Homo sapiens: one gene and its partners. The protein of the gene in region 2 interacts with the protein of the main gene of each other region in a biochemical or structural test. Each region holds a gene or a part of one and is shown on either strand. Other genes may lie near its edges. The genes, in order: RNF216, UBE2L3, UBE3A and UBR5.

What was found.
Region 1: the proteins of UBE2L3 (region 2) and RNF216 form a complex in vitro, tested with the Homo sapiens proteins (5 studies listed by BioGRID).
Region 3: the proteins of UBE2L3 (region 2) and UBE3A form a complex in vitro, tested with the Homo sapiens proteins (32 studies listed by BioGRID and IntAct, with this or other methods).
Region 4: the proteins of UBE2L3 (region 2) and UBR5 form a complex in vitro, tested with the Homo sapiens proteins (6 studies listed by BioGRID).

What each region holds. Positions count from the first base shown.
Region 1 is NC_000007.14:5,708,371-5,716,301, forward strand, and holds part of RNF216 (E3 ubiquitin-protein ligase RNF216), read right to left. Parts: intron 6,821-7,931; coding exon 6,683-6,820; intron 4,494-6,682; coding exon 4,345-4,493; intron 3,541-4,344; exon of another isoform or gene 3,470-3,540; coding exon 3,391-3,469; intron 1-3,390.
Region 2 is NC_000022.11:21,591,197-21,599,127, forward strand, and holds part of UBE2L3 (ubiquitin-conjugating enzyme E2 L3), read left to right. Parts: intron 1-1,664; coding exon 1,665-1,760; intron 1,761-7,931. UniProt on the Homo sapiens protein: Ubiquitin-conjugating enzyme E2 that specifically acts with HECT-type and RBR family E3 ubiquitin-protein ligases.
Region 3 is NC_000015.10:25,351,569-25,359,499, reverse strand, and holds part of UBE3A (ubiquitin-protein ligase E3A), read left to right. Parts: intron 1-2,603; coding exon 2,604-2,809; intron 2,810-3,443; coding exon 3,444-3,608; intron 3,609-4,816; coding exon 4,817-4,972; intron 4,973-5,073; coding exon 5,074-5,147; intron 5,148-7,931. UniProt on the Homo sapiens protein: E3 ubiquitin-protein ligase which accepts ubiquitin from an E2 ubiquitin-conjugating enzyme in the form of a thioester and transfers it to its substrates.
Region 4 is NC_000008.11:102,290,407-102,298,337, reverse strand, and holds part of UBR5 (E3 ubiquitin-protein ligase UBR5), read left to right. Parts: intron 1-731; coding exon 732-880; intron 881-1,353; coding exon 1,354-1,445; intron 1,446-2,555; coding exon 2,556-2,702; intron 2,703-2,805; coding exon 2,806-2,924; intron 2,925-3,007; coding exon 3,008-3,134; intron 3,135-3,226; coding exon 3,227-3,356; intron 3,357-4,222; coding exon 4,223-4,383; intron 4,384-4,493; coding exon 4,494-4,733; intron 4,734-7,931. UniProt on the Homo sapiens protein: E3 ubiquitin-protein ligase involved in different protein quality control pathways in the cytoplasm and nucleus. Mainly acts as a ubiquitin chain elongator that extends pre-ubiquitinated substrates.

The DNA of each region.
Region 1 (7,931 bases), on a different chromosome or scaffold from region 2:
TGTCAATATTTGCTTCACATATTTGGGTGCACTGATGTCGGGTGCATATACAGATGGTCTCCAACTTACAATGGTTTTACACTTTTTGACTTTACTGTGGTGTGAAAGTGATACACATTCAGTAGAAACTGTAATTCAAGTACCCATACAATCATTCTCTTTTTCACTTTCAGTACAGTACTCAATAAATTACATGAGATACTCATACTTTATTCTAAAATAGGCTTCCTGCAAGAAGATTTTGCTAAATCGTAGGCTAATATAAGTGCTCAGGCTTTTGTTTTCCTTTTTTCAGGAGCTTGCAAGCTCTTGCTTCTTCTGGTGCCTGTCTGAGGTATCACAGGCCCTCTGGAGCTGCTGTAAGCTGCCCAGCTCTTTTTTGGCCTCAGCAGCTCCAAGGCATCTAGAGTAGGTTGGGTTCTGCCAGCAGTGAGTTGGGTGAGACAGAAGCCAGTCCCTCAGGCAGCCCCTTGAGAAGCCCAAATGCTGAACACATGCTCTACTCTTCCCCTGGACCCAAAAAGCAGCCTTCGAGGTGCACTGGACTCTGCCTACTGTACCGTGGGTCCTCTGGCGCAGTACAAACCACCCAGCTTTCTCTTGTTCTCAGCAGCCCCCAGGGACCTAGACCATGCCAGGTCCCATCAGTGCTTCATCGAGTGAGACAGGAACGAGAGTCTTGGGCAGACTCCAGAAAACCTAGAATGCTGGACTCATGCTCCAACTCCTTCCCTCCCGAGAAGAGCAGGGAGAGGGCAATGAGGAGTCAGTACGTGCTAGTTTCACCATCCCATTTGTCCTCAGAGGTCCCCAACCTGGTGCCCTTTCCTGTGAGACAAGACAGAAACCAGTCCCTTGAGCAGCCTCCTGAAAGGTCTGAATATTAGATATATGTTCCAGTCTTCTTTTTCCTCCCCAGAAAGATGCCAGGAGTTGGGAGCTTCCTCCCAATCACATGGTGCTGTGCCAGGGGGAGGAACTCTGGAGAGCCAGCGTCACAAATTCCCCAGCCTTTGATGCAACTGGTTTCTGGATTTCTCACAGAGAGAAATGGTCCTTCCGTTGTTGTTGAACTGTTCTCTCTATGGGAAAAAGAGGGTCTGGAGCTTTCTCTTCTGTCATCTTGACACTACCCCACACCACATGCCTTTACGGCTTTTTCTGCAAGTGATCTAACTACTCACATGTTTCACTGACCACAAGAAGCTACATGGCTACCTTCAAGTTCAGCAGGCCATGTATATTCCTCCCATAGACAAACAAAAACATATGTGGTGTTCCTATTTGGGATCTTAAGAGCCCCTGGGAAGCTCCCACCAACATGCCAAGTTGATACTCACTAGATGCTGTTCCAGACTCATGTGTGCCCTCAGGCTTTTATTTTTTAAATTTTTTTCTTTTAAAGACAGAGTCTTAGTCTGTTGTCCAGGCTAGAGTGCAGTGGCGCAATCATGGCTCAGTGCAGCCTCAATCTCCTGGGCTCAACTGATTGTCCTGCCTCAGTCTCTTAAGTAGCTAGGACTATGGGCACACACCACCATGCCTAGCTGAGTTTTAAAATTTTTTTTGTAGAGATAGGGTCTATGTTGCTCAGGCTGGTCTCGGACTCCTAGTCTCAAGAGATCCTCCTGCCTCAGCCTCTCAAAGTGCTGGGATTACAGGCATGAGCCACTGGGCAACCAATGCAGCTGCTTTTAAATGTCTTCAGGCTGGGGGTGGTGGCTTACACCTGTAATACCAGCACTTTGGAAGGCTGAGGTGGGCGGATCACTGGAGGCCAGGAGTTCAGGACCAGCCTGGCCAACATGGTGAAACCTCATCTCTACTAAAAATATAAAAATCAGTCAGGCGTGGTGGCGCATACCTGTGATCCCAGCTACTTGGGAGGCTGAGGCAGGAGAACTGCTTGAAGCCAGGAGGCGGAGGTTGCAGTGAGCTGAGATCGTGCCACTGCACTCCAGCCTGGGCAACAGAGTGAGACCCTGCCTCAAAACTTAAAAACAAAAACAAAAACAAAAAACGTCCTCAGAGAATAATGGTCTCTCCTCTTCTTTGGCCTTCCCAATTGTACATAAGCACTTTCACTGGCAGACCTTCTTTGAAACCTTACCAGGAAATGTAGTTCCCAGCTCCTTCTAAGCAACTCATGAAGACCCAAGAGGCTGTGCAGTGCTGTACATTTCTCACCTGGACTACTCAATAGGCAAGTAGACTTTCCTTATATTTTATCTCTCCCCACCTCAGGACAGTGTGCTGCATGGGCCTGCCCCTACTCAGCTTATGAGCCTCCTTCACACTCCTAGCACCAGTAAGCGTCCACATTGCTGCCACTCCCGGGGCCTAGAACATTTCTCCATCTCCACTCCACTCCCACCCTTTCCATCCTTTGGCTACTTCCTCCTTATCTGCTGCATCTTAGCGTAGGCATCACCTCCCCAGGCAGTCCAACACCTGACCCACTGGAAGCACACAAGGGACACGCTAGCACTCTGCTTTCTTAAGAGCTGCAAGATGCCAGCGACTGTTGTGACAATTGTTATAGCAACAGCCTGGGGTGCGAACATATAAAATGGCCAGAAATATTAATGCTGAAAACAAAAGAAATAAAGTTTTGATCCATTAGTTTAGTTTATTCTTCCTTTTCTAATCTCTACCTTAATTTCTTTACTCTCCCCAAGGCAAAGATATTGCAGTGTTCAACTCTAATCATGCAATTTTAGAAAAATGGCTTAGAGCGTATTTGTCTAGGTGGATGCTAATATTCACTAAAAACTCTAAGTGGCTTCTAAATAGCTGAAAGATTTTAAGACATTCTTAGTTCACAGGGCGCCAAGTTAAAGGGAACAAAGATCTGCAACAGTAATGCACCTAGACAGCTCTGCTCCCACGTAATATAGTCAGTTCTCATGAGGAGAAACAGTCAAATAAATAACCTACCAGATGTGATGGAGATGCCACTAAGATGCCCAGTTCCTCAATCAAAGAAGCGTCGTTTGGACTTTGAAAATGGCAAAAGGTGTGTGTGTGGGGAGGGAGGGGTAGCAGGGGCTATTTGAGCACAGGTGGTGAAGAGAGCAAGCAAGAAAAATGTTGACACAGTGGAAGAAAAACTAAACACTTCCCACTTTACATTATAGTATCTGTCCTAAAGAAGATGATATAAAATAGGAATCCAGAGCTTTGTAACTGGAGTGGCAAGAGTGGCTGCCATCTCAGTAACCATGTCAACCGTTACTCACAAAGTACTCGTCCTCATTTGCTTATGAAAAGGAAAGCACTCAAATCCTTCTTATACATCAGCAGTCAGGTAAACAGCAGATATTTGGGCCATGAGGGCAGCCCATAATACCATAATTCAATATACATCTAGAAAAAAATGTGCCTCCCTACCTTTCGGCAGTGAGGATTAGGACAGCTGAACCTCTTCACATCACTGTCCAACAGAGCCGGAAAGCTACAGGACGGGCACCTAGAGTCAGAACAGCAGAACTGACATTACTTCAAACATTAAAGCCTGATCTGGTTCCAGCTCCATGTGGCTGTTCATATGAAGATGGAGTTTTGAGCTGGACATTCACATCCCCTTTATACTCCTTAGTTTTCCTTAAAAACACAGATTGAACCTCTTCTTTGTGCTGGCTCTTATCAGGAAACATAAGCACCACATGAGGTCCTGACTGAATATAAACCACTCAATAAACACGTCCCAACCTTAATGAGAACTCCTTGCATATACCGATTTCCCTCCAGCCCAGGGCACCATGATTGTATCTACGGGCCAGAAGATTTGGGGGTGCCAAGATATGTAGACAGAAGTTTGAGCTACAGTCTGGGCGCGGTGGCTCACGCCTGTAGTCCCAGCACTTTGGGAGGCTGAGGTGGGTGGATCATTTGAGGTCAGGAGTTGGAGACCAGCCTGGCCAACATGGCAAAACCTCGTCTCTACTAAAAATAAGCTGGAATGTGGTGGTGCACGCCTGTAATCCAGGCTACTCAGGAGGCTGAGGCATGAGAATTGCTTGAACTCAGGAGGCGGAGGTTGTAGTGAGCCAAGATTGCACCACTGTACTCCAGCCTGGGCGACAGAGCGAGAATCCACCTCAAAAAAAAAAAAAGAAGTTTGAGGGGCAGATTTTTCCATTAATAGAATTACTGGTTACTCAATGGTTCTGAGGCGTAAAAAATAAAAATAAATAAGTAAAATTATTGATAATCTTATTTCTCAGCAAGAAATGTCAAAAAACCTGGAAGATAAACACAATTTTCATCATCTGATGCAAGTGCCCAGGTAGTTTTCACAATGGGGAAGAGTTGGCAGATGGCACGCTCTGCCTGAGAACGAACCTGACAAGCTCGTCGGCGTAGGCTGCCGCAACCTCCTCCTCGGCTTTTCGCTCATAGTACTTATACAGGATGGTCTGGGGGAGCACCTTCTCCAGCTCACTGGTTGGGAACGAACACGTGCAGCTGCCTTCCATGCAGCTGAGCTCCAACTAGAAAAAGGCGAAAAGGCAAAGAAAAAAAAATCAATACCATTTATAGAAAAATAAAAAGCGTCAGTGGTTAAAAACATAGATCCTGAGACAACATAGCAAGGATCTCTCTGCCTGTTCATCTCTGAGAAATCACACTTAAATCATGGAAACCATGAAACAAAAATCCAGTACATCTTTGATATCACTAAAGGACCTCTATTAGCCCAAATCACAATCCACAAAGACTGAAAGTGGCGGAAGGGCAAATGGCTTAGCAGACCACACACAGAAGCCCATAGCTTAGGGTCTGAAAAGGAGATGCTGGGGAGAAGTTGTTCCCCTCTACAGATATTAGAAAGCTGGAGAACCTCTGGAAAGCAGAGCTGAGTGGTGGGGAGGGGCAGGGACTCAAAGTAATAAACTGAAAACAGGGACATGGGTGGAGCCTCTAGTTCCTACCCGCTTCAGAAGGAATTGGCTGACTCTGAGAGAAATGAGGAAGATCTCCTGAACAGCTGGACCACACGGCTCTGGACTGGAAACCACTCATAGAGGAGAGCAGAGCTGAGGGGTGGCCTGAAGTCAGAGTCTGAAATGGAGTCTGCATAATGAACAGAGAACTCTCCAGACCTTTCCTCCCCCTCAGTTTCAGAATGTTGGAAAATGGGCTCACACCCACCAGGCAGGAGGCAGACTGAATCACCCCAGGTAAGAGACTTCAGAGCCATTCAGGTTCATAATATAAAAGCTAACTGGCTCCTATGCACCTAGAGTCAAACTCACTGGTCTATAAGCCCCACTACTCACACAGCTTTCAAACAGCTCTTTAACATGAACAAAAAGTGTCAGACATGAGGAATGCTTCCCACATGAAAGACAAACACCAAAGAAAACAAATGGAAAAAGACGACATTTTAAAAATAACTAGCTAAAATTTATGAGGCATTTACCATGTGTCAAACAATAAGTTCATTAAACTCATCACCTCATTTAGCTTTCAAAACAATGCTATGATTATTTCCATTTTACAGAGGAAGAAACAGTGGCTTAAGGAATTTAAATTGCTCAAGATCACAGGGCTAGTATGGCTGATGGGGGCATGGCCCAATGCATTCTGCTTGACTCCAAAGGTCACGCTCTTTGAAAAAACATAAACTTTATTTATTTATTTTTCTGAGACAGAGTCTCGCCCTGTCACCAAGGCTGGAGTGCAGTGGTGCGATCTCAGCTCACTAAGCCTCCCGAGTAGCTGGATTACAGGCACCCACCACCACACCTGGCTAATTTTTGTATTTTTAGCAGAGATGGGGTTTCACCATGTTGGCCAGGCTAGTCTCGAACTCCTAATCTTGTGATCCACCCAACTTAGCCTCCCAAAGTGCTGGGATTACAGGCATAAGCCACAGCGCCTGGCCTATTTTTCTTTTTTAGAGATGGAGTTTCACTCTTGTTGCCCAGGCTGGAGTGCAATGGCACGATCTCAACTCACCACAACCTCTGCCTCCCAGATTCAACCAATTCTCCTGCCTCAGCCTCCCCAGTAGCTGAGATTATAGGCATGCGCCACCAGGTCTGGCTAATCTTGTATTTTTAGTAGAGATGGGGTTTCTCCATGTTGGTCAGGCTGGTCTTGAACTCCTGACCTCAGGTGATCCGCCTACCTCGGCCTCCCAAAGTGCTGGGATTACAGGCGTGAGCCACCCGGGCAAAAAGTCATCTTCTTAATCACTGTGTTAGTTTTCTATTGCTGCTGGAACAAAATACCACAAACTCGGTGGTGTAAAACAATGTAAAATTCCCATACTGTGTTTGTTATGCTGGTGTCCAGAGAAACTCACTTTGGAGAGAGAAATATGATCTTGTGTAAAGTAAGTTATGTTATTTTAATATATATTTAATCCAATAGGCTGCAAGGTTCTCTCTTTCTGAGGTAACCTTCCCTCTGAATACAAATAAGATGATGAACGAAGGAGGTGCTCCTCTGCGGCTAGGCGTGGGAGTGTGGAAGAATTCTACTGTGCCCTGAAAAGAAATCTGCTGTGCTCAGAGAACCCACATAATCACATACATCAGGTAATGTACACATAAGCATACCAGCAGAACTCCACCTCACCCTCAAAGAGGCACTTACACTTATCTATCAACATGGTCTCCTTAGACTCCAGGAATGTGTCCTATATACATGGGACATATTACACAGTTCTTACCTTTCCAGATCCAAAGACTGCCTCTTGGGCATATCTGATGAGACACTCTTTGCAGAACAAGTGAGCATCTGCGCACTGCGTCAGCTCCTCGAATGGAAATTCCCCATAGCAGCAGCGACACTCAATCAGCTGGCCATCCTGCAGGCAGTCAAGAAACACACATGAAATGTCCTGCACTTAAGGAGAGGGGGAGCCTTGTCTCCCATCCTCATCTCTCTGCCACCCCCCACACAAATTCTGAGGTAAAGCAACCCATTTTAGGGGCCATAAAACAATGATATGCTGTTTCGTGCTATATAAATCTAGCTCAAGATACTAACACAGTATTAATCCATACCTAAAACAGCGAGGTTTTCGTGTTTTTTTTCTGGTATTCTTTAGAGTAATTCTTTATATAAAGTTATCATATTCAATCCCATGGTGCAAAGGGAACTAGAACATCTGTACTCAGATGCTAATGTGATTATAAACAGCAAGGATAAGGAGTATGAGAGATGTTACCCAAAAAACTTTCAAAAGTTGAATTTTGTTCTTGTCATAAGGAGTGTGAATGGGTCTATCGAGGTCTGCGCTTTATTTTAAGGGACTATTGAAGCTATAACTAAAGCAGCAACCTCAAGTAATGTACCAGGCTATTGACTCCTTTTATTAACTATAGCAACGGATCCAATCACCAACTCATTCTTTTTTTTTTTTTTTTTTTTTTTGAGATGGAGTCTCACTCTGTTGCCCGAACTGGAGTGCAGTGGCACGATCTTGGCTCACTGCAACCTCCACCTCCCAGGTTCAAGCGATTCTCCTGCTTCAGCCTCCCGAGTAGTGGGGATTACAGGCACCCGCCACTATGCCCAGCTAATTTTTTGTATTTTTAGTAGAGACGGGGTTTCACCACGTTGACCAGGCTGGTCTCAAACCCCTGACCTCGTGATGTGCCTGCCTTGGCCTTCCGAAGTGCTGGGATTACAGGAGTGAGCCACTGCATCCAGCCCCATTCTTTTATTTATTTATTTTTAATTTTTATTAGAAATGGGGTGCTGCTATGTTGACCAGGTTAGTCTCAAACTCCTGGGCTCAAGCAATCCTCCCATTTTGGCCTCTCAAAGTGCTGGAATTACAGGCACGAGCCACGGTGCCCGGCCACCAACCCATTCTTAATACCACATTAGAAAGGGTCAGTAGCCAGGTGTAGTGGCTCACACCTGTTCCCAGCACTTTGGGAGGTTGAGATGGGTGGATCACCTGAGGTCAG
Region 2 (7,931 bases):
ACTGCAGGAGGTTGCAGCCCATGCCGCTAACGCCTCCTCAGGGAGAAATGGATCCATCATCGCTCCCAGCAGTGCCTCTTCTCTCACCACAGCTATAGCCTGTGAGAAATCCCTATGTTCAGGCTCCACCCACACTTGCTGGACCAGAATTTCTGGGGCTGGGCCCAAGTCCAGGTGATTGTGGTGGGCAGATGAGGGTGACAGGCAGGAGCACCCTGTGGGGGGAAACTTGTGCCTGTTGCCTGCTATGAAGCACCAGTGTGTTCCACCTCTTCCGTGTATTCATTCACTGCACTCTCCCTCTCTGCTGCTCTGGGCCGGGCGCCCAGCACATCTTCCTACTCAGAACCAGTAACCTGGGCTCCGGTTCCCCCTTCCTTGCCAATTGTTTCCTTCCCTGCCTGTGTAGCCTCAGGGTGCCTTTTAAACTACCACTGTGTGATGGAAGTATGAGGTGCAAGGATCTTTTGGGCTTGATGTGGGGGCTGATAGGGAGCCCCCAAGCCACTGTGAGTTGAAGTACCACGTAAGGAGGTTCTGGAGGGTGCTGGAGCTGGGCCAGAGGAAGCAGCCTGGCGAAGGAGGCAGGGCTCAGCTGGATGGTGCTCGGGCTGCAGAAGAGAAGGTGCCTGACAGGTGTGGAGGCGGCTTTTGTGCCACTGGATGGGAGGCCGGGCTGAGGCGGGTAGAGTGGCACTTCATGTGTCAGAGTGGAGGAATGTTGGCGAGGCTGGTGTTCTGGCAGGAGGGCATTGCTGGGTGGTTTGGGTTATAGCGCCTGCCAGGCATTCACTGAGATGTTGGAGGCAATGGGAAATGTCAGGCTGGTGCACAGTTGAAAAACAGGTGACAGACAGTTCTGAAGACATCTCAGGCAGGACCCTGAAGTCGTAAAGTTGTGCTTTCTGGGTGAAATGGCACTTGCTGCATTGACTGTTTATACAACAATAACCCCACATATTTGCAAGGGGTCCTGTTGCCCACAACATGGCTTCCCTTTCCTTTTCTGCACTCTGGGTCTGTTTTGCAGCTGAGGAAACAGGCTCAGTGAAGGTTTCCCGTCCCCACCCCCCCACTCCCACCCCAGTCCCAGACTGGATGGTTCTCTTTGCTGTGTGCCCATGTTGAGGTGGAGTCCTTCTGAAATCACACTTATAGCACTGGGTAGAAAACTGGATATGCGTTTGTGTCTGGTTTGTTCCCAGTCCCCAGTTTTATTCATCTTTAGCTTCTCAGCATCCGGTGCATAATCAGTGCTTAATGAATCTTGATTGGAAGGTATCAGGTGTAGAGCACCTCAGGATAGCTCCTGCCACATGTCTGCCCTATGCAGGGTGCTGAGGGATTTAAACAGCCATGGTGACCAACCCAAAGAGGAGGTGGTACGTCTGCAGAAGCATGGTTCCCCCTGTCCTATTCAGGGGGGTTCACTGAGGTGGGGGCTTGTCTTGGTCTGGGGCATGGGGAGAGGCAACAACCTTGCAGAGGGGACCGCCATGGCAGCTCCATGCCTCCTTAACCACTCCAAGCACAGTTTAGTCCTCACTGTCCAATTTTGTCATTAGCATTTTTGGCACTTGGTTTAATTTGAGGGCATCAGGAGGGATCTTAATATGTGGTGCTTTCCCCTATTTGACACCCCTTTATGCTTTGTCAATCAACAGGAGCTTGAAGAAATCCGCAAATGTGGGATGAAAAACTTCCGTAACATCCAGGTTGATGAAGCTAATTTATTGACTTGGCAAGGGCTTATTGTTCCTGTGAGTATTGAACACTTCCACTTCCTACCAGATTATTCTTTAAGGTGATGTGTGTGCTGTTGGGCTTGTTTTTCTGCTCCTTAGTAGGCTCTTAGTCTAGGCAGCCAGCAGATGCACAGAAGTGGCTGTCGCTCTAGGGTGATAAGGTAGGGAGTGTAGCCTTGGGTCCTGAGTAGAGTCACATCTTGGCACTCGTTTTGTCAAATTCAGGGAGTCCTGAGCTTTGCAGATCTGTAGACACAGAGAAAAGGAGTGTGTCTGTGCTCCTGCTCTTTCCTGACTTCCCTGCGCCTGGCCTGATGGATCAGCAGGACCTTCTTCTCTGAGCTCCTCAGGAGGGGACAAGCATTCCCCTCTAGATATTTTGCTTTCTCTCTTGGTTTTGCATTCATGTCTCTAACCCTTTGGATACCTGTATTTCGGGCTTTATTCCTGGTCCCCTCCAACCTGTGCCTTCCATTTGTCTCAAGTCCCTTTTCCTAATTGCCCACATGTTCCCCTCACCCCATGTCTTTTCTGGGGCTTATGCCTCCAGTGTCTGCCCCCACAGCCCAGCTCCCCCATCTCACAGTCTTCTGCCTTCTGATGGGCTCAAGGCCCTCCTAACGATGGCTTTCCTTAGCACCCTCTTAGTGCCTACTCTTTTCTGCATCCTTTGATCCCCTCCCCTTCAAGAGGCTTGTCTTATAATTAACTCCAGTTTGCAATCCCCCTTCCTCTCACTCTCCTGAAACCACGTCACACCCAGCCCACAGGCTGCCCCCACTGTTGTCACACCTCTAGCTCGGCAGTGCTGGCATCATGGCCCTTGCTTGCCTCCTGAGCTTTTGGAGCACGGGCAGCATTCCAGCCCCCAGTCCTGTGACCAGCCTGCCACTCGCTCCTGTTCTGCCACTCCTTCCTCCTCACTCTTAAACATGACTCTTGTTGGTCTCCTGCTGTTCTCCTGTTCTGTTTTGTCTCGGGACCCTACTACTTTCGGCATCATAGATGATTATGCCAGACATGAAGGATTCCCACACCTGTCTCCATTCCTGCCTTCTCCCCGGAAGCTGCACCATCTGTCCACCAGGCGGCCTCACTTGGTCATTGTGTAGCCTTCAGCTACCTCAGCTCACACCCTTGTCCTGCGTGAGTGCCCTCCTTTCCTGTTCTTCCTCATCCACTCACCTTCTCTGTTCCTTTTCATTCCCACTTTGCACATCTGAGCCTCTGGCCCTTGCCCTGTGCCTGCCGCTGTCCTGTATATAATTTGTTCTCATGGATGGATTGGCTGCTTTGCCAAAGCAGAGCATGGAGCATGCTTCCTCCTGTAGATGCTTCTTCCTGATGCTGGTTATAAGGTCATGAGCATGGAGCATGCTTCCTCCTGTAGATGCTTCCTCCTGTAGATGATTTCTCCCTGTAGATGCTTTCTTCCTGATGCTGGTTATAAGGTGAGCATGGAGCATGCTTCCTCCTGTAGATGCTTTCTTCTTGATGCTGGTTATAAGGTGAGCATGGAGCATGCTCCCTCCTGTAGATGCTTTCTTCTTGATGCTGGTTATAAGGTCATGCTTTTTTTTTTTTAAGTCCCTGAATTTGATCAGCAGTTATTGGATTTGTAGTTTATTTCCATAATCATTTGGATAACTAAGGAAAGATATGCTTTGTAATGATTTAGTATGCTCAGAATGTTTAAATCTGGGAGCTTCCAGTCTGATTTTGAAGATGAGTCCTTTAGATTTCTTTAGGCTTGATGGTGTTAGGGCTCAGGGCAAAGGGTGTGGGTGGCAGAGACACCTCTGCATGGGAGGGGTTGGCCTGTGAGTGCAGCCCTTGCCTACTCTAGGGACCTGAAGATGGCCGGGACCATCTGACCTCTTGTCCCTTTTCTAATTGAGATTGTGTAGTCTACTGAGCAAAGAAATGAACAGTTAATCTGTGGCTCTTTGGAAAATGATAAAAATGAATGGAATGGTTTTAAGTGGTAAGGCTTGGGCAGTCTGGCCCTGAGAATTTAGTGGCCTGAGAGCCTGCTAGCCAGCTCCACGGGTAGATTGCTGCTGGGCATGCTCTGCCCCAACTCATGCAAAGGCCTCCCTCTGGTTTCACGCTGGCAGGGGCTATGGAGCAGTGGGCTAAGATCTTACTAGGGCAAAGGTGGAGGCTGGCTGGTAGAATCCAAGTGTGCTTGGGCTGAGGCTCTGGGGAGCTATCCAGGCCAAAGTTTCACCTTGGAGACGGTAAGCAACAGCCAGGGCTGCTCTTGTCCCTGTGTATACCACTTCTTCTCGGTCCTCTCCCTTGCTTTCTTCCAGGGCCCCTGGGTTTGTATGAGGAATGTTTCAATGAAGTCTTCTTCCTTCTCCAGAGCAGTTAAGGCATTGTTGACATCTGACATCCCCAGGGTCCACACTTGTACCCCAACCTGGGCTTTAGGTCTTCCTGCATTGGACGGGCTGGGCCAGCATGGGAATCTACTATACAAACTCACCTGAGGTCTGCCCAGTTGGGGTAAAAGTAGAGCCAGGCCGATGAAGGCATGGCAGCCCAGCCCTGGTCCTTAGTGGAGAGTGGTGCTGTCCTTGGGTAGCCACCTAGCGATTGCCCTGGTCGTAGTGCACAGAGGAGGGCAGGTGGGAGGGAAGGCTGGGGAGGTACTTCCTAGAGACTTCATTGTTGCCAACGCAACTCTGGTCTATTCCCTTTAAACATTTGTTTTTCTGTAATTTTTTTTCATCTAAGATGCTAAGGTAACGTCTAAGGAAGAAAATATTACCCATAATCACATCATCAAGAAATTCAGTTACATTTTGTGTACTGCCCTTTAGGAACTAGAGGTGTGGTAGTCACCCTTCTTGAAGCTTCTAGCCCAGTGAATGTGTTTACTCTTAACCTTCAGCATACTTCCTCTCAGCCTTTTTTCATGCAGTTTCTTTTTTTTCTTTTTAATTGAGTTGGAGTCTCGCTCTGTCGCTATGCAGTGGCACGATCTCGGCTCACTGCAACCTCCGCCTCCCGGGTTCAAGCGATTCTCCTGCCTCAGCCTCCCAAGTAGCTGGGACTACAGGTGCGCACCACCACACCCCGCTAATTTTTGTATTTTTAGTAAAGACGGGGTTTCACCATGTTGGCCAGGATGGTCTCAGTCTCTTGACCTTGTGATCCACCCTCCTCAGTCTCCCAAAGTGCTGGGATTACAAGCGTGAGCCACCACGCTGGCCTTCATGCAGTTTTTAATAAACCATTTCATAACTTCATAATAATGTTTTGGTTTTTTGAGGCAGGGTTTTGTGCTGTCACCCAGGCTAGGGTGCAGTGGTGTGATCATGGCCCATTGCAGCCTTGAATTTCTGGGCTCAAGCAATCCTCCTGAGTAGCCAGGACTACAGGTGTGTGCCACCACACCCAGCCAATTTCTTTTTATTTTATTCCATTTTATTTTATTTTTTGAGACAGTCTTACTCTGTCACCCAGGCTGGAGTGCAATGGTGTGATTTTGGTTCACTGCAACCTCAGCCTCCTGGGTTCAAGTGATGCTTATACATCAGCCTCCCGAGTAGCTGGGATTGCAGGTGTGCACCACCATGCCCAGCTAATTTTTGTTCTTGTTTTTGAGACAGAGCCTTGCTCTGTTGCCCAGGCTGGGGAGTGCAGTTATGCGATCTCGGCTCTCTGCAACCTCCATCTCCCGGGTTCAAGCAATTTTGGCTAATTTTTGTACTTTTAGTAGAGACTGGGTTTCTCCATGTTGGTCAGGCTGGTCTCGAACTCCCGACCTCAGGTGATCCACCCATCTCAGCCTCTCAAAGTGCTGGGATTATAGGCATAAGCCATTGCGCCCATCCTGTAACGTCTTAAATTTCCACTACAAAGGTTCCAGTTCATCCACATCCTTGCTAACATTTGTTATTTTACTTTTTTTTTGTTTTTACGTTACAGCCATTCTAGTTGGTATGTAGTGCTGTCTCATTGTGGTTTTGATTTCTGTTTTCTTCATACTAAGGATGTAGAACATGTTTTTGCATGGTGTGTTTTTTGTTTTTTTGTTTCTTTTTGAGACAGGGTCTCACTCTGTTGCCCAGGCCAGAATGCAGAAGCACAGTCTCGTCTCACTGCAACCTCTGCCTCCCGGGTTCAAGTGATTCTCCCACCTCAGCCTCCCGAGTAGCTGGGACTATAGGCGTGCACCACCACACCTGGCTAATTTTTGTATTTTTTGGTAGAGACAGGGTTTTACCATGTTGGCCAGGCTGGTCTCGAACTCCTGACCTCAAGTGATCTGTCCGCCTCAGCCTACCAAAGTGCTGGGATTACAGGCTTGAGCCACCGTGCCTGGCCTGATGCACTAAAGTTTTAAATTTTTTAATTTAATTTTTATTTTTAGAGAAGGGGTCTTGCTCTGTCATCCAGGCTGGAGTGCAGTGGCTCAATAATGGCTCTCTGCAGCCCCAGACTCCTGGGCTCAAGCAGTCTTCCCAAGTAGCTGGCACTATAGGCACATGCTGCAACCCCCAGCTAATTTTAATTATTTTTTCTGTAGAGATGGAGTCTTGCTGTGTTGCCCAGGCTAGTCTTGAACTCCCAGGCTCAAGTGGTCCTCCTGGCTTAGCCTCTGAAAGCTCTGGGATTTACAGATGTGAGCCATCACACCTGGCCTTAAATTTTTAATAAAGAAGTCCAATTTATCTATTTTTAATTTTGTTGCCTATACTTTGGTTTGATTTTTAAGACACTGTTGCCAAATCCAAGGTCATGCAAATTTTCCTGAGTTTTCTTCTAAGAGTTTTATAGTTTTAGCTCTTAAATTTGGATCTTTGATCCATTTATATGTAGATTTTTTTTTTTTTTTTTTTTTTTTTTTTTTTTGAGACAGGCTCTCGTTCTGTTGCCCAGGCTGGAGTACAGTGGCATGATCATGGCTCACCACAGCCTCAACCTCCCAGGCTCAAGCGATCCTCCCACCTCAGCCTCCAGAGTAGCTGGTACTGAAGGCATGAGCCACCACGCCCAGCTAATTTTTGTATTTTTTTTTTTTTTTTTGTAGAGATGGGGTTTTGCCATATTGCACAGGCTGGTCTTGAACTCCTAGACTCAAGTGATCCGCCTGCCTTAGCCTCCCAAAGTGCTGGGATTACACCACTATGCCCTGCCTCATTTCTTATTTTAATAATATGAGTCTTTTCTCTTTTTCCTTTTATCAGTCTAGCTAAAGTTTTTTCAATTTTGTTGATCTCTTCAAGGAAGGTTTCATTAATGTGTGTGTGTGTGTTTTTCATTTATCTCCTCTGTGCTTACTATTTACTTCTTTCTTGTGTTATTACTTTCTTTGTTCCTTAAAATATCCAGTTAGATTATTGATTTCAGACTTGCTTTTTCAATGTAGGTATTTAAAGCTGTAGATTCCCTTTGAGCACTACTTTTGCTGCATAACTTAAGTTTTGGTATGTCATTTTTTTTTCTGAGGATATTTTCTAATTTCCCTTGTGATTTCTTCTTTGACCCATTGCTTGTTAGAGAGTACGTTTAATTTCCCCATAATTGTGAGTTTTCTAGTTCTGTTATTGATTTCTAGTTCCCTTTCCTTCTCCCTTTCCCTTTCCTTTTTTTTTTTTTTTTTTAAATAAATAGAGATGGGGGCTGGGTGCAGTGGCTCACACCTATATTCCCAGCATGTTGGGAGGCTGGGGTGGAAGGATCGATTGAGCCTAGGAGTTCAAAACCAGCTTGGGCAATATAGCAGGACCCCGTCTCTATTTTATTAAAATAATAATAATAATAAATGGGTTCTCCCTGTGTTGCCCAGGCTGGTCTCAAACTCCTGGGCTCAAGCGATCCTCCTGCCTCAGCCTCCCAAAGTGCTGGAATTACAAGCATGAGCCACCATGCCCCCACCCGCCTAGTTCCATTTCTTTTTTTTTTGAGACAGAGTCACTCTGTCTCCCAGGCTGGAGTGCAGTGGTGTGATCTCAGCTCACTACAGCCTCTACCTCCTGGGTTCAAGCAATCTTTTGCCTCAGCCTCCCTGGCAGCTGGGGCTACAGGCATACACCACCACGCTCGGCTAATTCTTTTGTATTTTTAGTAGACACAGGGTTTCGCCATGTTGGCCAGGCTGGTCTTGAACTCCTGGCCTCTTTCACCTTTTTGCAGTTACATTTGTAGTTAGACCTCTCACCTTCTTTCTGC
Region 3 (7,931 bases), on a different chromosome or scaffold from region 2:
TCTAATTGAGTTGACCTTTCTGTTACTGTTCTTAGTCACACACACACACACACACACACACACACACACACACACACACACGCATCCCTTATCTATAATCTAGCTAGTGTTTTATTAATAACTAAAAAGCTATGCCATTTGTATGTAGTTTGTTCTAAGTAAATCAGAGATACATAAGACGACGCCCTTTTTGAGATAGAAAATTATAAACTTCATAAAGTTCTTAAATTTGGTAAACCTTAGCTCTAGCTTTTGATGTATCTAGAAATGTTAAACCTTAGCTATAAAGCATACTTGCATTATATGCAGAAATACTTGTAAGAAAAAACATAGATTAAGCAGTTCCAGTAAGATAACTGAAGTGATGGCAGTAGAAGTATCAAAAAGGAGTATTTTACCAGGAGGTTATGGTGCTTTTCTCCCTGGAACATGAGAAAATGTGCCTAAAATGGAACTTCAGAGTTATATTCTGATTAACTTATAGCTTGTTGCTCTTGGTTCCAAGGAAGGGCATTTGTGACATTTTATTAAATTCATTAATTTTTTAGACACACCATTGTCAGCTTGAACAAATTTATTAATTGTAATTATTTGTCAGCTGTTCTTGATCCTGTTAATACCATACTTATAACTAAAAGCATTTCCATGGATGTTGTAACTTGGCCTGTAAAAAAAATGTTTAGATAGAAACCATGAAACTCAAATATGAATTGTTTAATTTTCAAACCATTTTGCATTCAGAAAATGTCCTAAGCTTAATTCATACTCCTAGTGATCAAGGAAACATGTTAAAGCTCCTTATTTTTAAACTTAAAGTGACAATGACATTTTCAAAGATTTTAAAATTCTTATAAACAGGTTAAAATACTTATATACTGTATAATTTGATTTCTGATTTCTAAGCTCTACTTTTCTATTGGAAATTACAGATTTTTTTCAGACTTAATTCTTAAGATGTTTTCATTGTTTCACAGTAGCAACTAAACATGTAGTAAAATGATTTAAATTCAATTAAAATTTTTTTCCTTAGTCATTTAAAAGGGAAGAAATCAATTTTTAGTAGTACTCATTCCAAAGATTCCAATTTTCCTTTTTTTTAATCTTTTATTTTTTGGTGGAGGGAGGCAGGATCTGGCTCTGAGGCCCAGGCTGGAGTGTAGTGGTTCTGTCTCGGCTCACTGCAACCTCCACCTCCCAGGCTGAAGACTCAAACCATCCCCATGCATCACCCTCTCAAGTAGCTGAGACTATAGGCACATGCTACCACACCCAGCTTATTTTTTGTGTTTTTGTAGAGATGGGGTTTCTCCATCTTGCCCAGGCTGGTCTTGAACTCCTGAGCTCAAGTGATCTGCCTGCCTCAGCCTCCCCAAAGTGCTGGGATTACAGGTGTGAACTACCACACCGGGCCCCAATTTTCCAATGAGTGATATAAAAAAGGCCTCCACGCAGGCGCCTGTAGTCCCAACTACTCCGGAGGCTGAGGCCAGAGAATGGCATGAACCCGGGAGGCGGAGCTTGCACTAAGCTGAGTGCTGCTGCACTCCAGCTTGGGCGACAGAGCGAGACCGTCTCAAAAAAAAAAAAAAAAAAAAAAGCCTCCATGATTGGGGCTTGCATAGTGAAGACCATGTGAAATTGAAAGACTACGAAACTACTTTTCTTTTACGTATTGGCCCATAATTAACATGTGTATTGAATAGCTTTGTTTATCTAAGTTCATCAGATTTATCCAGGTTTATGTATTTCAGATCATCTGATTTTATTAGGAAAATGCTAGAAAAATTTCATGGCACCATTGTCTAATTTTGAAAAAACGAACCTTTCTTTACTGTGATTAAAAATTGTTTTTTAGGCCAGGTGTGGTGGCTCACGCCTGTAATCCCAGCACTTTGGGAGGCTGAGGCTGGCAGATCACGAGGTCAAGAGGTTGAGACCATCCTGGCAAACATGGTGAAACCCCTTCTCTACTAAAAATACAAAAATTAGCTGGCGTGGTGGTGCACACCTGTAGTCCTAGCTACTCAGGAGGCTGAGGCAGGAGAATTGTTTGAACCTAGGAGGCAGAGGTTGCAGTGAGCTGAGATCGTGCCACTCCAGCCCACCCTGGGTAACAGAGCGAGACTCCATCTCAAGGAAAAAAATGAAAAATTGTTTTCAAAAATAGTACGTGTGGTACAGATATAAGTAATTATATTTTTATAAATGAAACACTTTGGAAATGTAGCCATTTTTTGTTTTTTTATGTTTATTTTTCAGCTATGGGTGGATAAAGCATGAATATAACTTTTCTTATGTGTTAGTAGAAAATTAGAAAGCTTGAATTTAATTAACGTATTTTTCTACCCGATGCCACCAAATTACTTACTACTTTATTCCTTTGGCTTCATAAAATTACATATCACCATTCACCCCAATTTATAGCAGATATATGTGGACATTGTTTTCTCAAGTGCTAATATAATAGAAATCAATGTTGCATGCCTAATTACATATATTTTAAATGTTTTATATGCATAATTATTTTAAGTTTATATTTGTATTATTCATCAGTCCTTAATAAAATACAAAAGTAATGTATTTTTAAAAATCATTTCTTATAGGTATGTTCACATACGATGAATCTACAAAATTGTTTTGGTTTAATCCATCTTCTTTTGAAACTGAGGGTCAGTTTACTCTGATTGGCATAGTACTGGGTCTGGCTATTTACAATAACTGTATACTGGATGTACATTTTCCCATGGTTGTCTACAGGAAGCTAATGGGGAAAAAAGGAACTTTTCGTGACTTGGGAGACTCTCACCCAGTAAGTTCTTTGTCATTTTTTTAATTCAGTCTCTTAGATTTTATTTAAATGCAAAAATTTAATTTATGTCAAAATTTTAAAGTTTTTGTTTAGAATCTTTGTTGATACTCTTATCAATAAGATAAAAATGTTTTAATCTGACCGAAGTACCAGAAACACTTAAAAACTCAAAGGGGGACATTTTTATATATTGCTGTCAGCACGAAGCTTTTGTAAGATTGATTTCATAGAGAAGTGTTTCTAAACATTTTGTTTGTGTTTTAGTGAAATCTTAAGAGATAGGTAAAAATCAGAGTAGCCCTGGCTAAGGGTCTTGGTAGTTACAACGAGTGTGCCTGCTCCTACCACCCCCACCCCCACCTTGAGACACCACAGAATTTCTCATAGAGCACAGTGTGAATTCTATTGCTAAATTGGTGGTATGGGGTTTCTCAGCAGAGAATGGGACATCACAGTGACTGACAATCTTTCTTTTATAGGTTGGAAACTATTTGGGGGACTGGAGGGATACTGTCTACACTTTTTACAATTTTTATTGATAAGATTTTTGTTGTCTTCTAAGAAGAGTGATATAAATTATTTGTTGTATTTTGTAGTTCTATGGTGGCCTCAATTTACCATTTCTGGTTGCTAGGTTCTATATCAGAGTTTAAAAGATTTATTGGAGTATGAAGGGAATGTGGAAGATGACATGATGATCACTTTCCAGATATCACAGACAGATCTTTTTGGTAACCCAATGATGTATGATCTAAAGGAAAATGGTGATAAAATTCCAATTACAAATGAAAACAGGAAGGTAATAAATGTTTTTATGTCACATTTTGTCTCTTCATTAACACTTTCAAAGCATGTATGCTTATAATTTTTAAAGAAGTATCTAATATAGTCTGTACAAAAAAAAAACAAGTAACTAAGTTTATGTAAATGCTAGAGTCCACTTTTCTAAATCTTGGATATAAGTTGGTATGAAAGCACACAGTTGGGCACTAAAGCCCCTTTTAGAGAAAGAGGACATGAAGCAGGAGATAGTTAATAGCTAAGTGTGGTTGTAGTATAAAGCAAGAAGCAGGGTGTTTCTTGTATTAAGCTGTAAGCAGGAACCTCATGATTAAGGTCTTTATCACAGAACAAATAAAAATTACATTTAATTTACACATGTATATCCTGTTTGTGATAAAAATACATTTCTGAAAAGTATACTTTACGTCAGATTTGGGTTTCTATTGACTAAAATGTGTTCATCGGGAATGGGAATAACCCAGAACATAACAAGCAAAAAATTATGACAAATATATAGTATACCTTTAAGAAACATGTTTATATTGATATAATTTTTTGATTAAATATTATACACACTAAGGGTACAAAGCACATTTTCCTTTTATGATTTGATACAGTAGTTTATGTGTCAGTCAGTACTTCCACATTTTTGCTGAACTGGATACAGTAGGCAGCTTACCAAATATTCTATGGTAGAAAACTTGGGACTTCCTGGTTTGCTTAAATCAAATATATTGTACTCTCTTAAAACGGTTGGCATTTATAAATAGATGGATACATGGTTTAAATGTGTCTGTTTACATACCTAGTTGAGAGAACCTAAAGAATTTTCTGCGTCTCCAGCATTTATATTCAGTTCTGTTTAATACATTATCGAAATTGACATTTATAAGTATGACAGTTTTGTGTATATGGCCTTTTCATAGCTTAATATTGGCTGTAACAGAGAATTGTGAAATTGTAAGAAGTAGTTTTCTTTGTAGGTGTAAAATTGAATTTTTAAGAATATTCTTGACAGTTTTATGTATATGGCCTTTTCATAGCTTAATATTGGCTATAACAGAGAATTGTGAAATTGTTAAGAAGTAGGTGTAAAATTGAATTTTTAAGAATATTCTTGAATGTTTTTTTCTTGGAAAAATTAAAAAGCTATGCAGCCCAATAACTTGTGTTTTGTTTGCATAGCATATTATAAGAAGTTCTTGTGATTAATGTTTTCTACAGGAATTTGTCAATCTTTATTCTGACTACATTCTCAATAAATCAGTAGAAAAACAGTTCAAGGCTTTTCGGAGAGGTTTTCATATGGTGACCAATGAATCTCCCTTAAAGTACTTATTCAGACCAGAAGAAATTGAATTGCTTATATGTGGAAGCCGGGTAAGAAAGCAGGTGTCTGCAAAAAGTCATGTATCGATTTATTGTTTGTAATGATACAGTAGTATAGCAGATAACTAAGACATATTTTCTTGAATTTGCAGAATCTAGATTTCCAAGCACTAGAAGAAACTACAGAATATGACGGTGGCTATACCAGGGACTCTGTTCTGATTAGGTGAGGTACTTAGTTCTTCAGAGGAAGATTTGATTCACCAAAGGGGTGTGTGATTTTGCTTCAGACCTTTATCTCTAGGTACTAATTCCCAAATAAGCAAACTCACAAATTGTCATCTATATACTTAGATTTGTATTTGTAATATAATCACCATTTTTCAGAGCTAATCTTGTGATTTATTTCATGAATGAAGTGTTGTTATATATAAGTCTCATGTAATCTCCTGCATTTGGCGTATGGATTATCTAGTATTCCTCACTGGTTAGAGTATGCTTACTGCTGGTTAGAAGATAATTAAAATAAGGCTACCATGTCTGCAATTTTTCCTTTCTTTTGAACTCTGCATTTGTGAACTGTTACATGGCTTCCCAGGATCAAGCACTTTTTGAGTGAAATGGTAGTCTTTTATTTAATTCTTAAGATAATATGTCCAGATACATACTAGTATTTCCATTTTACACCCTAAAAAACTAAGCCCTGAATTCTCACAGAAAGATGTAGAGGTTCCCAGTTCTATCTGCTTTTAAGCAAATGCCCTTACTACTCTACTGTCTACTTCTGTGTACTACATCATCCAATTCTGAAAGACATAGGCTTCCCCATCCCCTGCTAAGACTGGTTCAAGTGGCAGCTACTGATGGATTGCAGTGAGAAGGCATGCAAACACGTACCTTCCTGGAAGTTGTCTCCAAAGGCTATTGCTCTAAGACTCAAGTATATAAACACTAGAATGAATATCAACTCTATCTAGCAATAAATGTTATTTTTATATTACAGTTGACCCTTGAACAACACAGCTGTGAACTTCATGGGCCCTCTGACATGCAGATTTTTTTTCTCAACTAAGAGCAGATTCAGTATTGGTGGGACTCAGAACCTGCATATACAGAGGGCTGACTTTCATACATGCCAGTTTCACAGGGCCAACTGCAGAACTTGAGCGTGCATGGATTTTGGTATACACACGTGGTCCTGGAACCAATCCCTGTCACATATACCAAGGGATGGCTGTATGTTACTTTATATTCATTTGTTCTGTTATTTTATAAGGTTGTTCGTCGTGGTATGTGGGAATTCACCAGTATTTCTTCTTTCTGGTGCACCGTTGGTCATTTCTGGCAGCAGTGGTGAATGTATTTACTCTTAGCAACCTCTGTGCTGCTACCTGTTCTGAGTTTCAAAGGTGATTCATTAAAGGGTTGGGATAACATGGTGATAGGAAAAACCCCCCTCATCAGTCACAAGGAGTATAACAGCAATATCTCTGTAATATGATTGATCATAGATATAATTTCTAGTAGGAAAAAAAGTCATATCTTGATGCATCTCTGAGAATAGTTGAACATATCTTGTGCTATTCTTTATAGAGAAATTATCTTTGAAATTAAAGTCTTAATTTTACTTCTAGCTTTTTATAACAACATAATCCCTACTTGGTATGTATCTTAAGATCATTTTTAAATGTATGATTTGAAGGGCAAACTAGTGTTATGTGAAAAATGACAGATAAAGTAGCTTCCAACTCATCCTCAAGAGTTGATGATATTCTAAACCTTTTCTAACTAAATTCAGCTTCTTAATTTTCTCAATATAAATATGATGAAAATATTAATTCATTAAATAGTCTACAAGTATTCGGTAGTTGAAGACTTAAAGTAGTGCTTGTAATAACAGAAGAGAAAAAAGACATTACAGGCGTATCTCACTTTATTGCACTTTGCAGATACTGAGTTTTTTTGGTGGCAACCCTGCATCAAGCAGGTCTACCAGCACCATTTTTCCAACAAAATGTGCTCACTTCATTAGCATTTTTAGCAATGATTTTAAATTAAGATAATGTACTTATTTTTAGACAATGCTGTTACACACTTGACTACAGTATAATGTAAACGTAACTTTTATAAGCACTGGGAAACAAAAAAATTTGTGTGACTCACTTTACTGCCATAATCACTTTATTTGCCATGGTCTGAAACTGAACCGGCAGTATCTCTGGGGTATGCCTGTATAGATATTTTGGTTGGTATTTATTTATTGTATGCAGAATTCATAAAAATAAAAACTGCGAGGCTGTTTAATACATTTCAACTAAAAGTTGCCAGCATCATTAATATGTAAACCACTAGAAATAAGATTTTGTTAATTTTTTGTTTGTTTGTTTAAACAGTCTTGCTCTGTCACTGAGGCTGGAGTGCAGTGGCGCAGTCTCAGTTCACTGCAACCTCCGCTTCCTGGGTTCAAGTGATTCTCCTGCCTCAGCCTCCTGAGTAGCTGGGGTTACAGGTGCACACCACTACACCTGGCTAATGTTTGTATTTTTAGTAGAGATAAGGGTTTTGCCATGTTGGCCAGGCTGGTCTCAAACTCCTGACCTCTGGTGATCCGCCCGCCTCGGCCTCCCAAAGTGCTGGGATTACAGGCGTGAGCCACCATACCTAGCAAAATCAACTCTGAATCTGAATCAAACCTTTGAAACAAAAATTACCAATCAAAAAAACGTGCAATCCCTGCTCCTAACTTTGAAAAAGTGACAAGGAAGGACATTTGGAAAGATGTCTCTAAGCAGTCAACAAGAAATGAAATCAGGGAGAGCTTTTTCAGCACCTGAAAAAATACATGCAAAAACGCCCGAGGCGGGCAGATCACCGGAAGCCAGGAGTTTGAGACCAGCCTGGCAAACATGGGGGAAACCCCGTCTCTACTAAAAATACAAAAATTAGCTGGGTTTGGTGGCAGGCAGCTGTAATCCCAGCTCCTCGGGAGGCTGAGGCAGGAGAATCGCTT
Region 4 (7,931 bases), on a different chromosome or scaffold from region 2:
TGTCCATATATTATAATTATTCAGACTGGATTTCTATATATGTAAATGATACAATTGGTTGGAAATGATCAAGATTTGTGTGTGTATGAAATTCATGTGTTTATTATTCCTTCAAGTTTACTGTATCTTCCAACTTTCCATCAAAAAACAGCTGATATAAATTTATTGATTTAAGAATAAACACTCCGTAATGAACAGTGTAAAATCTTTGGAAAATAAGATGGATTACTGATAGAACCTCTTGGTAGTTAATTGGTGTTAAGTGATATAACTTTACAGAATAATAGACAGATGTCTTGTTATTTCTGACAGAATTCCTGCTAAATAGAAAGCATTAAGGAATATCAATTCTTACCTTCCAGCCTTTGAAAGATTAAAGTAGTTATCTTTTTAAAACACTGATAAATAGTTTATGAGATGGTCTATAATTTGCTAAATAGAGCCAGGAGTTGAGTCTTAACTGCCTGAAACAGAGCTAAGGATTCAGATGGCTGATGTATAGTGTGTTTGTATTGGCATCATATGTGGGTATGATGTAATTATGCTTTACTTTATATTGTTCCAGAGTTGGTTAGATTTCTTTGCATGTCATCTTTGTATATCACTTTTTAAAATTGATATATAATTTCTGGTTTATATTGTGTGTATGCTAAGGCTTTCCAGTTGAAGAAAATGGATGGCTAATTAAGTCCTTTCCTGAAAGATGAACTGCTATGTTCTTACTTTTTTAGCTGAAATATCCTCAAGTGAAAAAGAGGAAGATGTATTCATGGGAATGGTTTGCCCATCAGGTACCAACCCTGATGACTCTCCTTTATATGTTTTATGTTGTAATGACACTTGCAGTTTTACATGGACTGGAGCAGAGCACATTAACCAGGTAAGTTATTTCTACATTTTCCTGTATTAATCATATCTTTGTGTCTTTTTTCGCTATGACTATCACTAGACTTACAGTTTTCAGCTTTGGAATTAAGTCTGATATGAAGAAAGTTGATTTAATTCCTAAGTAAATGAGGCAAAAGAGCTGATTGCTCAGTTAAATATGGCATACCATGAAAATTGGAAATTTTCACTGGGTAGTATAATCTGATCCACAAATCTTGATACAGATTTTATAACTACAATGCCTTTTTGGGGATGATACAAATTATTTTTTTCTACTGGTAATATTTCTATTTGTATATCATAAACTGTATATTTGCTGTAGCCCTTTATAAGTTCTAGTTTTCCAAAGCACATTAATTTTGTTTGTTGAGATTGAATTGTTCTAGAAAATACCAGAAATAATTATTATGATGAGATATATGCATACTTATAATTATTCCTTTAAAAGTACACTCTTAATTTTAGGATATTTTTGAGTGTCGAACTTGTGGCTTGCTGGAGTCACTGTGTTGTTGTACGGAATGTGCAAGGGTTTGTCATAAAGGTCATGATTGCAAGTGAGTACAATTCTAGTTTTCTTTAGTTTAATATTATAAGCTGTTTAGATTTATATTGCTGTATGGAAATAATCTGTACTAAGTCATGTTTTACTTCAGAAAGCATGAGGTTACTTACGTTTCCCTTGTTTAAGTCAGTTTATGTATAATAGTGTGATTCTTGATTTAAAGTATACTGTGAAATGTTTGGTTTCTTTGCTAGTTCAAACATTGCCCTCCTTAAATAAAAGTAGGTGATTATACATTGTAACTAGGATCAGATTAGTCTTTTGAGAAGTATATCTACAGAATGTTCCTGAGTGTATTATGCAGCGGAGGTCTCAGGTCCCCTGTAGTGGGGTATACTAGGAGAAAATTGCCATAGGCCTAGAGGGAATCATGGTGAATGTTTAGACTGTGTCTTAAACTAAATGCAACAGTCTTTCATTCAGCAACAGTTACCACAGCTAGTTCTGTTGGTTTTCAGAGACCTGAGAAGCAATGAAATACCTAGCACTAACATCTGTGGTGTTTTAGGATTATGGATAGGGACTTCAGTATAAATGGCTACAAATGTTATAATAGAGAATTGGACTGTAAAAACCATCTACCGTACCATTAAGTAATTGTATAGGACAAATGAAAAATTTTAATAGATATTAAAAGAATTCTGGTTGGTATTTTTTGTTTTCCTTATTTTAAGTACCTAAAGGTGTGATAATCTGTTGTTATTGATTGTTTTCCAAGTGTACTAGATGCCAGGGTGGTGGTGAATAGTCCTGACAGTGTTCACATCCCTATCAGAAGCAAGAAATATCTGCCCATAGGGTTACAGGGTTCATTAGGTCATATAGGAGGACCACTTGAACAGGACTGGGAATTAGGGAAGAGATTCCAAAAGTGATTGTACCTTAGAGTACCTCTTCTCATAGGAATTCTGTGTTGCTTTATAGATGTCATTACTACCAAGTAATCCTTCTTGTTATATAAGCTTTGACAGTTATACTTTGCATTTAGAAATTAACAAGGGCTCTCTCTGGTTTCAGTGAGTTATACCTTCATAATGTCAACATAAACCTTTGTATGTTTAAAAAATTTCAGTTTTTGTACTTGTGTATAAATTCTCTATAGACTCAAACGGACATCACCAACAGCCTACTGTGATTGTTGGGAGAAATGTAAATGTAAAACTCTTATTGCTGGACAGAAATCTGCTCGTCTTGATCTACTTTATCGCCTGCTCACTGCTACTAATCTGGTTACTCTGCCAAACAGCAGGCAAGTGGGATTTTTAGAACATACAGTAAGTTAAATCAAAAGAGCGCAGCACAGCTGAGTAGCTTTTCAGCCTCCCTCCTCACGACAACATTCTGTTTTGCAGGGGAGAGCACCTCTTACTATTCTTAGTACAGACAGTCGCAAGGCAGACGGTGGAGCATTGTCAATACAGGCCACCTCGAATCAGGGAAGATCGTAACCGAAAAACAGCCAGTCCTGAAGGTGAGTTAATTAGACATTTATGACACTTGTGGGAAGCAATATGTTTTATTTTTGTTTTGGTCACTATTTCTTTTTCATTTTAGATTCAGATATGCCAGATCATGATTTAGAGCCTCCAAGATTTGCCCAGCTTGCATTGGAGCGTGTTCTACAGGACTGGAATGCCTTGAAATCTATGATTATGTTTGGGTCGCAGGAGAATAAAGACCCGTACGTATTCATTAAAACCTTTTTAGATTTATGTATTTCCTACGTTAGTGTAGACCTTTTACAGTTCATTCTGTCTTTCGTTTCTCCTCAAGTCTTAGTGCCAGCAGTAGAATAGGCCATCTTTTGCCAGAAGAGCAAGTATACCTCAATCAGCAAAGTGGCACAATTCGGCTGGACTGTTTCACTCATTGCCTTATAGTTAAGTGTACAGCAGATATTTTGGTAAGTTCTTTGAATGTGTATTACAAGTACATGAAAAGTATGTTTTTCAAGTACTCTTCTTTGCTGTGAAACTAGAAAAGAATTTAAACCTTAAGATCCAGTGCGAATGAGGTTATGGTAATAACACACTCAGATAGGGATGGGGTGGCATTGCATCGTTCCTTTCTCTGGAAAACATAAAACTATCAGTGCCCTCAGAACCTGTCATAAATAAATAATTTACGATGTGAGAAAAATAAAGGCATGTCACAGAATAATGTAAAATTTAAAAACAGAAAAATATCAGCCTAATACTAGTGTAATCTTGAATCAAATTATAGCCTGACCACTTACTGGAATATGATGCAGCAATTTAAAAATAAATCGTATTGTAAATAACGTAAAAAAAAAAACCAAACAACCAAACTGTGAAAATTGGGTGTTCTCTGTAGCTAACATTTATACAAGAAGCTGCACACAGAAAAGAGACTAGAAAGTAATAATGGTTCCATGAGGGAGATGGGATTATGAATTTATTCATATAAATATTTGAGTCTGCTTTGCTGTTTTGGAAAGTGCCCCAGACTGAGTTTATGTTTTCTTCTTCTGATTTCATATATTTGGTATTGTTCTTCTAAATATTAGTTGATATACCAAGGACTGTGGGACAAAAAATAAGAAATCGTACATTTAGGACTCACTGTATGTCAAGCACATTGGCAGGTATATTTCATAAACTGACCTTGTAAATGTTTTGGTTAAATTTGTTTTGAGATTTTATTATAAAATGTTAATACTTAAAAAATGTTAGAACTTATAACTTTATGAATGTCTAAACATCTTATGAAGTATCTTAACATTAATAGAGTGAATATAATTTTTTAAAGCTTTTAGATACTCTACTAGGTACACTAGTGAAAGAACTCCAAAACAAATATACACCTGGACGTAGAGAAGAAGCTATTGCTGTGACAATGAGGTTTCTACGTTCAGTGGCAAGAGTTTTTGTTATTCTGAGTGTGGAAATGGCTTCATCCAAAAAGAAAAAGTAAGGCATCCTTTTTGATTTTGGTTTAGATACCATTTTCACTCTGTTTTTGTGATAGTGATTTATGTATATGAAAAGATAGATTGCTGATATTTCTCTTTTTGTTCTAGCAACTTTATTCCACAGCCAATTGGAAAATGCAAGCGTGTATTCCAAGCATTGCTACCTTACGCTGTGGAAGAATTGTGCAACGTAGCAGAGTCACTGATTGTTCCTGTCAGAATGGGGATTGCTCGTCCAACTGCACCATTTACCCTGGCTAGTACTAGCATAGATGCCATGCAGGGCAGTGAAGAATTATTTTCAGTGGAACCACTACCACCACGACCATCATCTGATCAGTCTAGCAGGTAAATTGCTACCAGGTAACAGATTCTGATTAATCCTTCTCTGGAAATGTCGTGTTTGACTTCCTAAAACCTTTGCATAAGCACTCAGGTGGTGTACATGATCATTTGTGTAACATAAATAACAACCAGAAAGCCGGAATTTTAAATATTTTTCTACAACAACTGTATTATCAAGGACAGGGCTAAAATAACTCCATTATAAATGTTTCTAATTATAAGATTATTTGTTCTTAAGTTTCATTTATCTTTTCTATTTGTTTGATAGTTTCCCTAATTACACTGTAAGCTTGTTGAATCAGGATGTTGAGCAACTTAAAACTTTCCGATGTCCTTTAGCACACTGCTTCTCAAACTTTAATATGTATGAAAATGACTTGGGGCTCTTATTAAAATATAGATGCCCACTCTAGAGGTCTTGAGGTGGGGCCTCCAACTTCGTATGCCTTTCAAGTTCTCAGGTGATGCCAATTCTGCTGGTTTAGGGGTCAGACTTTTCAGTAATAATGCTGTAGATCTTTGGCAAATATTTAGTGTATTTTGTTTTTTCAAGTCTGATTTTATAACCATGTGCATGTGTGATGATGTTTTAATAAGGACCTTTAGGATCTAAAGACCCTTTTCCTCCTTTTCTGGAAAACATCTCTGTTAATAAGGATGGCCTGCTTTAGTGTTTGGGATAGTTCCCAAGTTGTTACGCTTGGATTTGATCTGGGTTGGTGTTGAGTATCTGCTCTCACTATTCTCCTATATGCCAGTATATGTGTCCCAATTTTTCCTTTAATGTCAGGTGTCCCTTTAATCTAAATCCAGTTTTGTCTGACAGAGCTCTCCCATAGTATCCTTGATACTGATATACATCCAGGACTTGTTGAAAACTGTTACAAATCAAGCTGTGTATCTTCAGACTTGTCAAATCTATCCCATGATTAAATAATTCTGCTTGTGAGATCTGCTTGGACTCTGTATGATTTTCCTGATCTTGATACCCTGTGAGGAACTCATTAGTTACTTAAGTGGTATTACTTTGTGAATTCTTAGTATACTTCCCTTGATCTTGTTCTGGAACATAAAAAATTGATGGCTGTTGAACAGATTTTGGGATCGTCTCATCTCTAAACACTGCCCTTGAAACTGTTCCTACTAAGTTTCAAGATTTTGTGTCATCTTGTTCTTAGTCTCATTATTAAAGTATTACATACTCTTAAACTCTCTTTATTCCATTCCCTTTGCTTGTTTCTTGAGACAACTTCCTAAATCTTCCCAGAAGGAGATCTCATGTGATAATCAAGAAATAGTGCTAATGTTTTCTTCAACTGTTAAAAGTTCTTTATTATAGTACAGTACATTCTTACCCATAAAGGGTGTATTTTGACTAGTGTTCCAAGGATGTCTTAAGTTGAAAAACACAGACCTTGACCATTCTCTGGGATTTCACTTGTCTTGGATTATAGAAGGTGTATATCACCCCATTGAGTGTGAAGTCTTAAGAGTAGCTTTTTCTGTTGCTTCTTTCCACCTCTTGAAAATGTTCTTGTTATGTTCTTAATAAATAATCTGTTTCTACTTTATTTCCATGTCTCTCATATAACAGTAACTAACAGTTACTGAAATTTTAGTATGTACTAGGAACTTTCCTAAGTATTGTAGACAGATTACCTGTTTTAATTTTCCCAATATGTCATAGATAACCACTATCATTCTAGTTTGTCAAATGGGGAAACTACGGCTCAGAAAAGTTAGGCAACTTCTCCAGTGTAACACAGCTAATTAAAGTTTAGACGCTGGACTTACCTTGACAGATACTTCCTTTTTTTTTTGTATTCTCCTGAATAGTAGATGGCAGAGTAGAGAGGAAGACTACTTGGTGCTTGCTCATAGTGTTGAGCCACCACACAGTTAACCAACACTGAACCAGGCTTTATAGTGTAGAGTGCAGTCCAAAACTCTCCAAAATGCAGACTTGTAGTTAGAAGTTCTCAAAAGAGACCTTTTTCCATTCTGCATCTATTCATGGCTGAGATAGGTAAATCTCTCGAGGTATGATTTTTCTGTTTCACTCCTTCATGGTGTTGCCCTTTTAAGATTTATGTTTAGCTTTATATATGTGAGGGGGACAGAAGAGGAGATTCCTGTGATGACTTTCTATTCTTTGCTTAGCCTCCAGACTCTCATGTGAAATCTGTGGTTCCTTGAAGCCCTTCTAGCCCAAGAGACATCAGTGGGTCCCTTTGGGATAAATGGTGGCACTTGTCTCTCCAAGCTTTATACAGTACAGTCGTTTCTCTTTATCACCTGCACAGCTGTCCTTTTTTTTTTTTTTTTTTTTAATATCTAGCATATATATGTGTTCCTTAACAAGAGTGGTTTCTCTGCACAGTCTGCCAAATTGCTGGAACTAGAAGTCCCCAAAACTTAGTAGTGTATTAACGGGGCTTTTTAGACTAGGCTTCAGGACTGTTGTGCTTCATTGTGCCAGCAAGTCTGTTGGGAAAAAAGTTGAAGTCACACTAACTGGGGAGTTACACAGGTTGAGTATTCCTAATCTGAAAATGAGAAATCTGAAATGCTGCAAAACCGGAAACTTTCTGAGCACCAACATGATGCTCAGAGGAAATGCTCATTGGAGCATTTTGGATTTTGGGATTGAGGATGCTCAACTGATAAATATATATAATGCAGATACTCCAAAATTTAAAAAAAAAAAAAAAAACCCAAGATCAAAACACTTCTGGTCCCAAGCATTTCAGGTAAGGGATGTTCAACTGTAATACGTTTTATGTATTGGTATTTTTAAATTACTCTTTTTAAATTTTTTGTAGCGTTTGGGTCTCGCTGTGTTGCCCAGGTCGGTCTTAAATTCCTGTCCTCAAGCAATCCTCCCACCTCAGCCTCCCAAAACATTGGGATTACAGGCATTAGCCACTATACCTAGTCTGTTTTGGCAGTATTATACATACTAACTGCATAACTTCTTAAAGTAACCACTTTGAGGGGCCTATAGTTCTTGTGGATGTTTGTTCTAGGATGTTTGTTTTAAAAAAGAAATACTCATTAGTTGTGGCTTCACACAGTGCTTTTATGTTTTAATATTGAAATCTCTTTAGTGGTTGGAAATACCCTTTTTCATCTCTACAGATTTTCTCTTAGCCTTTCCCACTTTTGTAATCCACGATCTCTGTTTTACCAGTTACTTATAGT